Linked DNA regions of Homo sapiens: region 2 is linked to region 1. The links come from fine-mapping of genetic effects on gene expression. Tissue or cell type: whole blood. Region 1 holds a variant in brackets; the other region holds the start of a gene. All regions are shown on one strand. Distances are between the middles of the regions.

Region 1 (8,348 bases):
TGACCTTCATCGCCTCTTGGTACTTCTTCCATGTGCTGTATAGGTGGAGCTCCCGTAGTCGCCGTAGTTGCCGTTTCATCTCAACTAGGAGGATACAGAGTGACCGTCAGCACCTTGGTGGTGGCGCTCATGAACAATTCAGTAACACTGCTTGAGGTGGGCTTGGGAGGAGGGTAGCAGGCACAGGAGAGATGCAGGAAGAAAGGGAATCAGGGCCTTTGGCTTCCTAGCTCCAGGCCGCCTCATAAACATATAATAGCCAATCTCAAACAGTGCACACCAGCAGTGCAGGCTGTGTGTCCCTGGCAGCCTCTTAGGGCTCCTCCTTCCTAATCTGACCTGAGCTAACTTGCCCTCTTATTGATCCCTGCCAAAGTCATTTCCTCCTCAGAATCCACATGTGCTGCTGATCTGTTTATCATCCCTTCTAGAAGATTTTGTACTAAACAAGAAGTAACCTTTCTTAAAATAGGAGATTTAATTCTAGCCAAAAGATTTTATTACTAACTTTCTGTTACAAGGCAAATAAACAGAGATTTGAAAATACTCTATTATCCTACCATTTAACGATGACCCCTACTTAGCATGTGATATTTGTTCTTCCGCTCTTCCTTTTCAACACCATGTGTGTGCACCATGGAGTTCACTGCTGCTCATGCTCACACTGACTCCAGCACAGAGACAGTCTGTCATGGGGAGCAGCGAGGCGGGGCAAGGGGTGGGCACTGACCCTCTCCAACCCAGCTGTGCAGAGATTCCATCAGGGAAAATGGGTGCCAGGCTAACACCCAAGTTGAGTCTTGAGATTTTATTGGATGCTATGTGTTGGGATTGGTTTCCACTGAATTTCTAAGACTTGTGGTGATTATCTCCTTAAATACAATAGAGTATGTCACTGATTATTGTCTGCTTTTGAACAGGAGCTGAGGAATGACCTCAACGCTGTAGACCAAAAGCCTGAGGACTCTGTGTGTTTTACATTAATGATCACACTAAAGCCCACAGTGCAATGTACCTACTCAAACAAACCCTGGGTTAGCTGACCATTGAGACCATCCGATAATGATAGTGTTTGGGATCTGAATAGGTTTTCATTCTTCCAGCACACAGAAGTGCTGGAATAACTTGGCCTAGCAAGAAATTATACCAGGGCTTTGTGACAAATTCAGTGTAGTAGCCCATGGCATTAACCTTCCACTCATTCCCGAGTTCACATGTGTCTCTTCCATTTAAAAGACCAAGAGCTTGGGAAATTCAACTCTGCAGCATGTCCATCTGAGGACTGGGGATATTAAACTTATCTTCAGGTACAGCTGTGGTGGACGATGAATGGGTAGCTGAGTAGCTGGTATTACAGACATGTGCTCCCTGAGTAGCTGGTATTAAAGACATGTGCTTCCTGAGTAGCTGGTATTAGAGACATGTGCTCCCATGCCCAGCTAATTTTGTATTTTTAGTAGAGATGGGGTTTCTCCATGTTGATCAGGCTGGTCTTGAACTCCTGACCTTAGGTAATCCACCCTCCTTGGCCTCCCAAAGCACTGGGATTACAGGCATGAGCCACCGTCTCCAGCCAGAACATTTTGTACGAGGTAAAAAGCAACCTTTCTTCAAAGAGGTGATATAATTCTAGCCAAAATATTCTACATATTCACTAACCTTTGTTTCAAAGAAGACTAAACCAAGATTTGAAAATACTCAATTATCCTACCATTTAAAGATGACCTCTACTTAGCCTGTGATATTTGTCCTTCTGCTCTTTCTTTTAACACTGTGTGTGTGTGTCATGGGGCCCGCTGTTGCTCATACTCACACTGGCTCCAGGAATGGGACAGCCCTTCATGGGTGACAGCAGGTGGGAGCGCTGACCCTCTGTTACCCAGCTGTGCAGAGATTCCAGCAGACAAGATGGGCACCAGGCTAACAGCCAATTGGCTCTGTGAGATCTTGTTGGGTGCTGTGTCTTGGGTATGTGTGCTACTGAATTGGAGCATTTCTAACGTTTGTGGTGATGATCTCATTAAATATAATAGAATATATCTCTGAATGTTCTCTGCCCTTGACCAGGAACTGAGGAATACCCCATCACTTAAGACCAAAGGCCTGGCAGCTCCCTCTGTATGTTTCATATTAATGACCGCACCCAAGTTCACTGTACAATGAACCTACTCAAACTCTGGGTCAGCTGACCATTGAGACCATTCTATTGTGGTATACAGTGCTGGAGATCTTTATAGGCCAACATACTTCCACATACACATAGATGCTAAGGACTCTCTGACATGGTGACAAGTTACACCAGGGCCATGTTATAACTTCAGACTAGTAGCCCACAGCATCACCCTTCCACCCATTCCCGAGTTCATCTATGCCATTTCCATTTAGGAGACCAAAAGCCTGAAAAATTCATCTCTACATCATCTCCATGTGAGGACTTGGGATATTAAACTTACCTTCAGCTACAGCTGTGGTGAGGAATGAATGGGTTGATTTTTTGCAAAAATGCAGTGGTGATCAAATTTTGTTTCTAGAATATCAATCTTTGTGTTGTGCTTTGCATATGGGAACGTATTTTCTGGGGAAAAGCACACAAACTCGCAGAGACATTCACAATCATTCCACATTGACTCATTCCTCCATACCTCCCAACTCTGATTCACAACACCCTCTTCTATCCAAATGACCCTGTTCCTTCCAAGCACCAGAGTCAACGGTCACATTTCTTGACCAGGTTCTTCACTTGTCAAGACAAAAGTGCTTGAACCACATTTCTGGCAGGAAGTTCAAACCAGAGTGGCTCTCCAGAAAAAATGAGGCAAGAAAGTGTCACCTTTGTCAACACTAGAATTTTTCCTCAGCATAGGGGTGATTCCAGAATACGTACTGTCTCTCTCTGTGTCTTTGTCCACCTGCATTTAGAGAAAAACAAAACACTACAAGGGTCAGACCATGCTGTGTCCTGTGTGCACAGGTTTTCCTTTTCCCTCCCTCCCTTCCTTCTTTCTTTCCTTTCTTTTCTTTCTTTTTCTTTCTTTCTCTTTTTCTCTTTCCTTCCTTCTTTCTTTCCCTTCCTTCTTTCTCTTCCTTCTTCCCTTCCCTTCTTCCTTCCTTCCTGCCTCTCTCTCTCTCTCTCTCTCTCTCCCCTACTCCCTCTCTCCCTTCCTCTCTCCCTTTCTTTGCTGGAATTTCGCTCTGTCACCCAGGCTGGAGTACAGTGTTATGATCATGGCTCACTGCAACATCCGCCTCCTGGCCTCAAGCGATCCTGCTCCCTTAGCCTCCCCAGTAGCTGAGATTACAGTAGCCGGTCAGCATGCCCAGCTAATTTTTGTATTTTTAGTAGAGATGGGGTTTCACCATACAAGTCTTTTCTTTACTTGGTGACATTAGAAAAGCAGATGGGAGACAGTGGTTGAGGCAATGGTCCTAAAGCCTCGAAGACACTTCTGGAAAGGCACAAGATTTTTATGCAAGACTTTCAAGATTGTTTTGGTTGTATAGTCACAATGTTGTAAGAAGAAAGCTTTTCCCCTAACAAAAATTCTTTCTGCCATACAGTTCATAACTGAAGGTGTCATCTAAGAATGCCATCTGAGATCATTTCTTACCTGGTAATGACCCTCACATTTTCCCACCAAAATATTCTGTAAGTCATCTATAATGTACATGGTAAGATTTTCATATCTCAATTCAAATAAAATAAAAAAGAACCAAGAGCAACAAAATTTCCATCTCAGAAACATAAAGAAGAACTTACCATATGAACGCCCAGGACATCTTCAGATGAAGCTTCCTGCACCAGGTCCTCATCGTAATCTAGGAAACACAGAGTAACTGTCATCATGTTGGTTCCACTGAAGGAATCCCTTAGGCAACCTTGGATGCTAAGGACAGGGGGCTGGCATGTGTAAAGGAGGTGGGTTAAGGGTAGAAACTTGGCTGCCACTGGGACACCCTCCTGGGTGATGAGGGAAGGCAAATGAGACCATCAGGAAGCCACAGAAGTCAGGACCTGGTTCTCTGGCTAAGCCCCCACACCACTGCAAAAAAGGCAGAGTTCACACAGGGTGGCACACAAATGCACTGCTGATTTCATGACAGTGTCCCATCACCCCCTTGTGCATTTTGAGGCCCGGTAAATTTCTTTTGTTGTTGAAATGTTATAATGTCATTTATCTTTCCTTGATCTACATATGCTCCTCCTGTACTTATCATCCATTTAATTGGCTTTAAAATCAGTATTGTGGCCAAAATACATCATATTTATTATTTTAATAATCAAGTGCACACTTCAGGGGCATCAGTGCCATTCACAATTCTGTGCAGTAAACTAAATGTAATCCAAATCCAGATGTCTTACTTTCCACCTTAGGAAACTAGAGAAAAAAGTGTAGTGTAATGTAAACCAGGCAACACTCCTCCCCCAAAATATAACAATATTTGCAGAAATCAATGTAATAGAAATAATAAAATAAAGAAACTCAACAAAACCAAAAGCTGCTTCTTAGAAAAGATCAATAGAATTGGTAAACCTCCAGCAAGGCTAATCACAAAGAAAATACAGAAGACACGATGTACAAACAATATGAATAGAAGAGGAATTATCCTTGCTGATCCCATAATCATTAAGAAAATAATAACAGAATACTTTCAACAAATCTATGCCTGCAATTTTTTAAGTGCAGGAGTGAAAGTCTATTGAAAAGTTTGAGAGTAGGAATGACAGGAAGCACAGTAGCCTTTGATGAGAACCAAGCAGGCAACTTGTCAGATTCAAGTGTCTACACCCACAAATTTCCTAGCTTAGATGAAATGGACAAATGCCTTCAAAGGGAGAAACTACCATAACCACCCAAAGGAGAGATAGATAATCTGAGTAGGCCTCTATCATTATAGAATTTAATCAGGAAGTAATAACTTAAAAAAAAATGCCCACATAATTGTACTGGTGAATTCTGCCTAACACAATGGAAAACATAGTCTTA[C/A]CAGCAAGTGATCAAAATTCTACATATTTACCCAGCTAAATTAGAAAATTATGTTCATCTTAAAATCTGCACAAGAATGTGGGCAGCTTTATTCATAATTACCCAAATTGGAAGCAGCTCAGATGGTCTTCAGGCAGTGAGTGAACCAACTAACCCTGTTCGATGAAACCAATGGACTATTGTTCACTGATAAGAATTATTAAGCTGTTAAGCTTCAAAACGATACAAAAGATCTTACATGTATATTGCTAAGTAAAATAAGTTAGTTATACGTAGCTACATACTCTATGATTCCAACTCTATACAATTCTGGAAAAGGAAACCTATAGAGGCAGTAAAATCATCCATAGTTGTCAGGAATCCTCAGAAAAGGAGAGGAATTAGTAGATGCAGCTCAGGTCATGTGTAGGATGTGAAATTATTCCGTCAGGGTGACAAAAGACATTGTCAGTTTGTCAAAACCCATAGGCTGGACAACACAGAGTGAACCTTGATGCTAACCCTAGATTTCTGTTCATAAGAATGTATCACTATTGGCTCAGTCACTGATGCTAACCTTGGACTTCTGTTCATAAGAATGTATCACTATTGGCTCAGTCATTGTTACGAGCGTTATCACACTCACAAAGATGGGATCACCAAAAAATACTGAGGAAGGTGGGTATATGGAAAGTTTTGTTGCCACTTCCTCCATTTTTCGGTTACTTCCAAACAGTTTGAAGTGATGTCCATTACTTTACAAACCTGGCAACACTGTCTCAGAAAAAGATCCTTTTTAATTAATGTTTTAACAATCAGCAAAATGTCTACAATTTGCACTGAGATGTTATTTACTATTAAAAGTAAACCCAAATCTGGAATGGAAATACACCTTTACTCCTCTGGTTGTAGCACTAGTGATTGACTTAACACATTTAAATATGCACACATGAAATAAAGAATATAGCATCGCAATTTTATAATTGTCTGAAATATGAGACACTGAAGAATCTAGAAATCATATCATGAATGAACTGAATGACTGAATTTCCACAACACCTTCCATTGATGCAACTCTAGGGTATATATGGCCGGGATGCCAGTGATACCAGTGATAGGTGATTGGCTTCTCACGCTCGCGGTGGCAGACGGTGGATTCCCCTGGCATCCTAGGATACACTATTTCATCCTCGCCACAACACACTGGGAAATGAATTAAAATAAAGACAGGTGTTGGTGTCTTGCCGCAAAAGATCAGAGAAATGAGTAATTATTTATTCACAGCTTAAATGTTTGATTCCATTGTTCATCATCTGCAGAGCAAAGCCCCCTGAATCTGAGTTGGGCTTCAGAAAGACTTGCACTGTGGGTTGCACGTATAAGTGTGCAGGCAAATGCCTGTATTGAGATGAGACATTACAGAAAGGTAGTAGATTGGAGTGACCAAGAGCATAGGGTCCGGAGCATAGGATCTGAGCTCAGGGACTTCTGAGAAGCTGCTAGAACCTGAGGAAGTTCTATAGATCCCTCTGTGCCTCCTAATGGCCTACGTTATGTTAAAAGGGTAAGAATAGTTAAATGGACCTAAAGCCTTAAAACGGGTGCTTCCTAAGTGCCATAAAGTGTTCAATTATTTCATGTCTGGAAGAATAAGCCAGGCCCTTGGTAGTGGTTAATAGAGAAGCCACTTGGGGGACTCCAGGGCAGTGGAGGCTAAAATTCTTTTCATTCTTGACATGGGTCTCATGCTTTAGAACTCGTGAAAAGTTTTTGTTTGAATTTCCTGTGATGCCCACATAGGCCCAGAGAGATGGGCAGAGCAGGGGCTGCCACTCAGAGGTGACGGTTCAGGGAAGTGAAATGAAGAGATTTGAAGCGACCTGCCTAGGGTCACAACACTGACGAATGATAGATCTGGGACAAGAATTTGGCTGGTTTTCTGGGGACAGAGATCCCTGAATACCTGAGGCCTCTAAATCATGGCCTGGACCCTGAACCTGGAGCTCTTTCCACTCCCTTTCTCAATCCTCCTGCACCAAGGGCTCTTCAGGAAGGTTGATGTATTTGGAAGAGGTGGTGAGTCCAGAAAAAAGCCAAATCATTTAACAAAACAAAACTCCTGTCTCTAGGTTTTAACTCCTGGGCTAAAATATGGCACTTTCCTGCAAACGAAGCCTCTCTGAGGAACAAATTCAAATGTCTGGTCATCCTACCCATTGCCCTGTATTGTCAGCTGTCTGGCAGTGAGCACCCCTCCATGACCAACTGACCACAGCAAGGGACCAAGTTCTGCTTGGCCCCCAAGGTAGTTCGGAACTTAGGACCTTCCAAACTAACTACCACTTGATGGCTGTGCCAAGAATAAACTTCCCTTCAACTGAACCATTCTGAAGAAGCAATTAATGGGAATTAACTGAAAATGTGGCCCCCCAGTGGATTTTTCAGCAGTTTATTCTGTATCTAGTCTATGAAAGAGTGTGTGTGGCGGGGGAGGCCGGGTGTGGTGGCTCACACCTGTATCCCAGCACTTTGGGAGGCCAAGGTGGGCAGATCACAAGGTCAGGAGTTCAAGACCAGCCTGGTCAATATGGTGAAACCCTGTCTCTACTAAAAATACAAAAATTAGCCAGGCATGGTGGCAGGCACCCGTAGTCCCAGCTACTTGGGAGGCTGAGGCAGGAGAATCGCTTGAACCTGGGATGCAGAGGTTGCAAAGAGCTGAGATTGTGCCACTGCACTCCAGCCTGGGTGACAGAATGAGACTCTGCCAAAAAAAAAAAAGAAAAGAAAAGTCCAGGCTCTGTGGCTCATGCCTATAATCCCATCACTTTGGGAGGCCAAGGAAGGTGGATCAGGAGGTCAGAAGTTCAAGACCTCCCTTGCCAACATTGTAAAACCCTGTCTCTACTAAACATACGAAAATTAGCCAGGCGTGGTGGCGGATGCCTGTAATCCCAGCTACTCAGGAGGCTGAGGCAGGAGAATTGCTTAAACCTGGGAGGTGGAGGTTGCTGTGAGCCATTATCACACCACTGCATTCTAGCCTAGGCAACAGAGCAAGACTCTTCCAAAAAAAAAAAAAAAAAAAAAAAAATTGGCATTGGAAGCAGTGTATTTTCTAGAGAAAAGTATTTGAGGCAAAAATCTTGATAGAAGAATAAAAAAACACAAATTGAGTAATAAAACTCTGAAACATATTTATAAATCTGTAGACAAATAGGAGCTGGGGAAATAAAAAAAAATCAGAATGACATTTAACGTACAGGAAAACTGGCTTATCTGAAGAAATTGCAGTCAGAAGATGGAAATGAACATACATACCTTCGAGGCAACAACTATAAGCACATCCCATTGTGAGTCCTCTGAGACAACTAAGCTGCGTTT
Region 2 (8,000 bases), 330 kb before region 1:
TATTCCAAGATTGAACAGGCAATTGCTGGGCAGGTGTCATTGCAGAAATATTCTTCGTGCATGGGTGTGACGGCCTTTGTGCAAGATTGTGGTTTCAGACAATCCTTGTTTTTTGTTGTTGTTGTTGTTGGGTTTTTTTTTTTTTCTTGAGACGGAGTTTTGCTCTTGTTGCCCAGGCTGGAGTACAATGGGGCAATCTCGGCTCACTGCAACCTCTGCCTCCCAGGTTCAAGCAATTCTTCTGCCTTAGCCTCCTGAGTAGCTGGGATTACAGGTGTGTGCCACCACACCCAGCTAATTTTGTATTTTTAGTAGAGACGGGGTTTCATCATGTTAGGTTGGTCTTGAACTCCAGACCTCAGGTGATCCGCCCATCTCAGCATCCCAAAGTGTTGGGATTACAGGCATGAGCCACCGTGCCCAGCCTCAGACAGTCCTTGTAATATTTTCTATCATAGGCATGTGTGCATGGGAGCCCCTCATTTATGGCCTCCTGAGTCCATTTTGCTAGGGTTTGGCATAAGTGACTCCAGTTTGATTTGGACAACTTGTGCAGAAGGATGCCCACTTTTGGTATTTCTATTCAACATAGTACTGGAAGTCCTAGCCAGAGAAATTAGGCAAGAAAAAGAAATAAAAGCAACCCAGATTGGAAAGTAAGAAGTATCTCTGTTTGCAGATGCTATTTATTTATTTAGAGACAGGGTCTCACTCTCATTGCCCAGGCTGGAGCGCAGTGGTGTGATTGTTATAGGACAGGGGTCCCAATCCAGACCCCAAGAGAGGGTTCTTGGATCTCACGCAAGAAAGAATTCAGGGTGAGTCCTTGGTGCAAAGCGAAAACAAGTTTATTAAGAAAGTAAAGGAGGGGCCGGGCACGGTGGCTCACGCCTGTAATCCCAGCACTTTGGCAGGCCGAGGTGGACAGATCATGAAGTCAAGAGATCGAGACCATCCTGGCTAACAGGGTGAAACCCCGTCTCTACTAAAAATACAAAAAAAAAAAAAATTAGCTGAGCATGGTGGCAGGCTCCTGTAGTCCCAGCTACTTGGGAGGCTGAGGCAGGAGAATGGCGTGAACCCGGGAGGTGGAGCTTGCAGTGAGCCGAGATCGCACCACTGCACTCCAGCCTGGGCAACAGAGCGAGACTCCACCTCAAAAAAAGAAAAAGAAAGTAAAGGAATAGAAGAATGGCTACTCCATAGACAGAGCAGCCCCAAGGACTGCTGGTTGCATATTTTCATGGCCATTTCTTGATGAAATGCTAAACAAGGGGTGGATTATTCGTGCCTTCCCTTTTTAGACCGTATAGGGTAACTTCCTGATGTTGCCATGGCATTTGTAAACTGTCCTGGCACTGGTGGGAGTGAGGATGACCAGAGGTCACTCTTGTCACCATTTTGGTTTTGGTGGGTTTTGGCTGGCTCCTTTACTGCAACCTGGTTTTTGTTGTTGTTGTTTGTTGGTTTGTTTGTTTTTTGAGACTGAGTCTTGCACTGTCACCCAGGCTGGAGTGCAGTGGTGAGATCTCGGCTCACTGTAACCTCCGCCTCCCGGGTTCAAGCAATTCTCCTGCCTCAGCCTCCCAAGTAGCTGGGATTACAGGCACCTGCCACCATGCCCAGCTAATTTTTTGTATTTTTAGTAGAGACGGGGTTTCACTATATTGACCAGGCTGGTCGCAAACTCCTGACCTCACAATCCGCCCACCTTGGCCTCCCAAAGTGCTGGGATTACAGGCGTGGGCCACCTTGCCCAACACTGCAAACTGTGTTATCAGCAAGGTCTTTATGACTTGTATTTTGTGCTGACCTCCTATCTCATCCTGTGATTTAGAATGCCCTAACCGTCTGGGAATGCAGCCCAGTAGGTTTCAGCCTCATTTTACCCAGATCCTGTTTACGACGGACTTGCTCTGATTCACACACCTCTGACACAATCATAGCTCACTGCAACCTTGACTTCCCGGGCTCAGGTGATTCCCTCACCTCGGCCTCCTGAGTAACTGGGACTACGGGCACCATACCACCATGTCTGGCTAATTTTTTGTAGTTTTAGTAGTGATGGGGTTTTGCCACGTTGTCCAGACTGGTCTCAAACTCCTGGGCTCAATCTATCCACCCACTTCCACCTCCCAAAGTGCTGGGATTACAGGTATGAGCCATGGCACCTGGCTAATAAGCTCTTATCTGCAGAAAACCCTAAATATTCCACACACAAAAAATGTTAGAGCTAATAAATGAATTCAGCAAAGCAGCAGGATACAAAGCCAATGCACAAAAATCAGTTAAATTTCTATGCATTAACAATACGCAATCAAAAAAGAAGATAAAACTTCCACTTACAATAACATCAAAAAGGCCAGGTGTGTTGGCTCATGCCTGTAATCCCAGCTCTTTGGAAGTCTGAGGATGAGAGGATCACTTGAGCCCAGGAGTTGAAGCTGTAGTGAACTATAATCGTACCACTACACTCTAGCCTGGGCAAGAGTAAGATCCTGTCTCAAAACAAAAAACAAACAAACAACAACAACAAAACCATGCAAATGGACAGCAATAAATAAATACATTAATTTAATTAAATAAAACAATAAAAACCCCCCCAAAAACAGTAACATCAAAAGGTGCTCAAGTTGTTACCAATTAAACTGAAAGTTCCAGCTGGGCTTGGTAGCTCACACATGTAATCCCAGTGTTTTGGGAGACCAAGGCAGGAGGATCCCCTGAGGCCAGCAGTTCAAGACCAGCCCAGTTAATATAGCGAGGCCCTGTCTCTAAATAAAAAAATTAAAAAGAAAAAAAAAAAAACACCTGGAAGGTCCCTTCACCCCAACTCCACTTCCACCCCCAACTTGGCGGCACATCTTTCCTTTCGCTCTTCCAGTCCATATTTCATAGTTGCCTTTCAAGTCCCACATTAGAAATAGCAGACAGCCCAAATCCCATGGTGTTTCTTTGCATCGTCTCCCTATACCCCGTGTTTAAATGTCACAGCGCCTCACACACAGTGCTTTGACAGGCCATTTGCCATCTGTTGGTCTCACCGGATTGTAATCTCCGCATGGCCATGGCTGGATTTTATAAAACGTTGCTGTCCTGGTGCTTGGCAAAGCGCAGGCAGGGAGGAGGCATTCAGAGCCTGTTCACAGAGGGCAGCGGGCAGCGTGGAGAGTGGTAGGCTGCCTGGGTAAACCAGGTCTGCCTTTCTCAGGCTGGTTCATACCTAAAGGACATTTAAGGGGCCTAGCTGGCCATCCAAACTCTGGTCGTATGAACTGAAGCCTCCTCAAGGGAGATACACAAAAAAATACACAAAACAACACGGCCTAGTGGGAAAGGACCTGGACTTGCATGAAAAGGTGCGGGGCAGCCTTTCCCAGCCTCAATTTTCCTCTTCTTACAGAGGCGGAGGCTCATAGAATGAGGTGCATGACATCCCAACCTAGGAGAAGAAACTTCTGCAGAATGAATCAGGAGCCAGGTCTGCGCTCCCGAGGCCAGAGGTGGCCTCCTGTCGCAGCTCTGTGCACGGTACGGCCACTCTGTGCCCTGCGTTTCGCCTCCAGGCCGGGCGGGAGCAGTGCCTAGCCCAGGTGTCCTCGACGCGAGCAGCTGGGCGCCGCTGCGGAGGGAGGGAAGCGCCGCGCCGGTCCCGGGCCCAGCGCTGCGCCCAGTCCTGAGGCGCCCTCCTGCGGCCGCTGCTCGGCGACCTCCCGGCCCTGCGGCCCCGCCCCCGCGGTGACGTCACCGCATTCCGGCTCCGCTCCTCCCGCCGCGGCGCCCGCACCGCAGTGACAGCCAGCCGGGCCCGGTGGCGGAGAGGAAGTGCGGTCCGCGCCAAGCCCGTCCCCGCCGACGCCGGCTCCCCCGCGGCTCGGGTGACAGCGTCGCGGCCGCCGGACGCAGCGCGGGGCAGGCGCGGGCAGAGCCGAGCGCAGCGGAGGCTCCGGCGGAGGCGCGGGGAAAATGGCTGATGACTTTGGCTTCTTCTCGTCGTCGGAGAGCGGTGCCCCGGAGGCGGCGGAGGAGGACCCGGCGGCCGCCTTCCTGGCCCAGCAGGAGAGCGAGATTGCAGGCATAGAGAACGACGAGGGCTTCGGGGCACCTGCCGGCAGCCATGCGGCCCCCGCGCAGCCGGGCCCCACGAGTGGGGGTGAGTCAGCGCGGGGCCTGGAGAGGGGCTCAGGGCGCGCACCCGGGGGACCCCGGCCGGGGCCCAGGGGCACAGGGAAGAGAGCCTGCTCTAGGCCACCCGGGGCAGGAGCTGGGAGACGTGGGGAAGAATCTTCTTGGAGATCTCCATGTAGGACTTCCGAGCTGGGGATGAGGCCTCGCCTGGGGCTGTGGATCTGGTGACTCCCGGGACAGGAATTCGGTCATGACATTTCATCCCCAGGCCAGCTTCCCCACTGCCCGGCTCTGGAATCCAACCCCACCTCAGTTTTGAGAGTCCCTCCTGAGCCTCCTAATAGCCTGGGTGTCCCAGGCTCCCAGCTAAGTGTGCAGGTGTGGGCAGAACACAGCCCTCCTGGCCCCTCAGGCTTAGCTCTCTCCTGCAGCTGGGAAAAAAGAGGATCCTGGGTGCTCCAGGAACTCACTAACCTTCCCCGGTGACCGCCTGGCATTCGGCAGTCGCTGGGCTAAGCGCCTTGGTTACATTTAATCACTTCATACACGTGATTGAACCCATTTCAGAGATGGTAAAACTGAGGCTCAAGGGAGTATGCTATTGAAATAACTAGTAAGTGGCAGATCAAGAATTTAAACCTGTTTCTTTTTCTTTTACATATATATTTTTTCTTTTCCTTTTTTTGAGATGGGGTCTCGCTATGTTGCCCAGACTGGTCTTGAGCTCCTGGGCTCAAGCAATCCTCCCACCTCTGCCTCCTAAAGTGTTGGGATTACAGGTGTGAGTCACCACACCTGGCCGTGAATTTAAACCTGTTCCTGTCGGACTTGAAGCCCTCTCCACCTGACCACACTGCCTACCAAGTGTCTGGCTCTGAGTTAGACACCGGAGTGTGGGCCACAAAGAGGCATCAGTCAGATGCGGTAGGGCCCTTCAGGGTTTTGTAGTTGTCGACTTAATGGTTTTCCAAAGGTGGTCCGGGGCTATTATGATTTACTGTGATTGGCTTCAGACCTCAGTGTTCAGGGCCTAGTCCCTGTGAAATCATCTTTATCAATGATGTTTCTGCCCTGGTTCTGGCTAGCAAGAATGATTTTGTAAAATATTTAGTAAAAAAGTAGATATCACCTTCATGGGTACATCCAAAACAGGTTTTACTTCCTGTTGATGTCATTTTGGAAAGGTTTATGGGCCTGTTGTAGTAAGTGCTAACATATATACATATAGACATATTTTGGTTAATGATGTTTACAAGGCTCTTCACAGTCATGTTTGTATCCATTCAACGTTTACTGAGCACCTACTGTGTGTCAGGACGCTGGGGATACAGAAATGAATAAGACAGTTCCTGTGGCTGAGGAGTTTGAAGCAACTCTGTATCTCCTTGATATGAGAAATGTAACCAGGCTTTTGTAACATGCAAGAAACCGGTGGCCCAGAGAATCTGAGTATCTTGCCCAGAGTCACACAGCCAGGAATGACCAATCTAGGACTTGATCCCACGCCTCCCAACTCTGGGCTCCATGCTCTTTCAAATGCTGTGGAGCCTGGGCAACATGGTGAAACCCCATCTCTACAAAACATACAAAAATTAGCCAGGCATGGTGGCATGTAGCTGTAGTTGTAGTTCCAGCTGCTCGGGAAGGCTGAGGCAGGAGCATAGCTTGAGCCCGGGAGGTGTAGGTAGGTCGCCGTGTGCTGTGATCACGTCTCTGTACTCCAGCCTGGGCAGCAGAGTGAGACCCTGTCTCAAAAAAAAAAAAAAAAAGATTCTATAGCAGTCACCTCCCTGGCAGGAGATAGGATGTGGGGTGAGAAGCATGGGGTCTTTTGCCACCTATCTGAGACAGCAATGGAGGGCTTCTGAAGTGGAAGCTTCCAGCACCTCAATACAGAATCTGCCGTGTCCCAGGGAATTCCTAAGAAATGCCTGCCCCAGTTAATGCACCAGTATTCACTGGACCACACCTCTGTGAGACCACCCTTTTCCTCAGTCTGGCTCACTGGGGCCTGTTGGGGTCGGGGTGCAGGGAAGAGGAGGGAGGCCTTGTGGGGAGGTCCTGCTGAGGGGAGCCATTGTGAGAACCTCAGGAGAGAAAAGATGGGATTCAGGCTGAGGGCAGCCAGATGCCTGAGGGAGCTGAGCAGGTTGTGGCCTCTCCCAGGATGGTGGGGCTCCAGGGACTTACAGTCTGGATGGCAAGTTCTGTCCTTGGCAGGGGTGGGGCACAAATTGGCCTCAGACCAGAGGTGACAGGGAGAGAAACAATGACACGCTCGCTTCTTCCAGGGAGGTGCCGGGGATACAGCCTTCTGAGGGTCTCCCAGGCGCATACCTGCTGACTCTGCAAAGGCTCAGCTGCCCTCCTTAGTTGGATCGGGGAGCAGGGAGGTGTTGAGGGATGGCGGCTCAGTGGATGGCCAGATGGGCTAGAATTGATCTGACCTTCTCAGCCTATGCAGTGCTGAACAGGTAATCTTCCCCTGACCAGGGATGTGTGCCAGGAGCCTGGATGGGGCAGAGAAAAAGCGCCCTGGCCTGCTGAGAGCTGGGCAAAAGCTGGCTTAGCAGCGGCCGCCAGTCAGTACCTCTGAGGCACCTTCTCTTAGATGTTGGGGTCCTCAGATTAGCAATCTCTGTGCTGACACTGGGCTCAGTTGCCCCTGGGGAAAGAGGTATCTGGTGTAGGCCTGTGCTGGAGCCACAGGGAGCCCCTCCTCTCTGGCTGGATCTGTGGCCCTGGGTGATCTGGATGATGGACACTTTGTTTCCATTCATCAGCCTTGGGTAGGTTTCCATTTTCACACCCAGTTTTCTGAGCACCAGGCCTGGCTCTGACTTGCCTGTCAGTTCTGGGCAAGCCCATTTCCCCCGCTGGGCCTCGTAAGCTCACAGGAATGTTCTGGACCCTCTCTGCCCTTGTTCCAAAATGGGTCAGGCAGCTGAGGGAAGCAAACCCTCAGGGGTTTATCCCTGGGACGTGTCTCTGTCTCAGTCCTGTTCTGCTGGCCTGTGAGTGTGGACTCCCGGTGGTAGATGGGCAGTGGGTGGGTGGAGAGCACTGTGGGAACAGGTACTTGGAATGCTGTGTAGGTGTGTGTGGACTCTTAAGGAGGCCGAAACTGCATGTCCAGAGGAACACTCTCGAGGCTGAGGCAGAGAGACTTTCTGAAGGTCAGGGTAGACCCCAGGCAGCTGTGTGTAGATGTGGGGTCTGAGACTGGGGTTGGTCAGGGCGGAGTAGGGTGGTGCAAATTCTCGAGAAGGCCAAATGTACAGACCGGCATCACAGGGAATAGACCCTGGTAACGTGAGGCCCTGCTAGAGGAGACACCCCAGCAGAAGAAGCCCCTTTGCAGAAGATGCTGCCACTGAAATGCTATTGGTCCCACTGTGATTTAGGGGCCAGGACACCCATGCAGGAGAAGCCTTATCTGAAGGAATGGGAGTGACAGCTGACAGAGTTGGTTGGAATCAATCACTGGTTGACTCTGAAAGCAAAGTCAATTATGATTTATGTCACCCGGGGATTATTTCCATGGGATTAAGTACCCTTCCCTTGAGTCCCCAGGCCAAACACACTGTCGCTGCTCACAGCCCTGTCTGGCTGGTGAAGGGCTATTTGTCCATCTGCCTATTAACCTCATGTGGCCTCCATGGCTTTTTGCTAGGAGGCACAGCAGTTTCTGAGAGCCTTGCAGATAACAGCAGGCCTCAAAACAACAATTCAACTTCCATTTAGCCAATAGTTACTGCTCACCCATTCCGTGCTGGAGCCCTGAGGAGCTGAATAGGACACGGAGCCTGGTAAGGGGGTACACACGGACCCTGGGGGTCATGAGTAATTGCACAAGAGGGTGCAGGATACTG

Evidence for each region. PIP is the estimated chance that this variant, and not a neighbour inherited with it, causes the effect.
Region 2: it holds the start of CLTB, and the variant in region 1 is fine-mapped to the expression of CLTB in whole blood (TOPMed, PIP above 0.99).

The regions. Positions count from the first base shown.
Region 1 is chr5:176,084,931-176,093,278 of GRCh38, reverse strand. It overlaps the pseudogene FAM153B. Among named protein-coding and RNA genes, the nearest start is that of THOC3-AS1, 120 kb to the right of the region's middle. The variant C/A (reference allele first, on the strand shown) is at 4,986.
Region 2 is chr5:176,412,330-176,420,329 of GRCh38, reverse strand. It overlaps CLTB (clathrin light chain B), which reads left to right and starts at 3,791. Exons shown (of 6, transcript NM_007097.5): 1 at 3,791-4,153. The coding sequence starts at 3,967. It also overlaps a transcript of ARL10 not described here. RefSeq lists silencers at 3,499-3,958, 3,999-4,098, 4,209-4,288.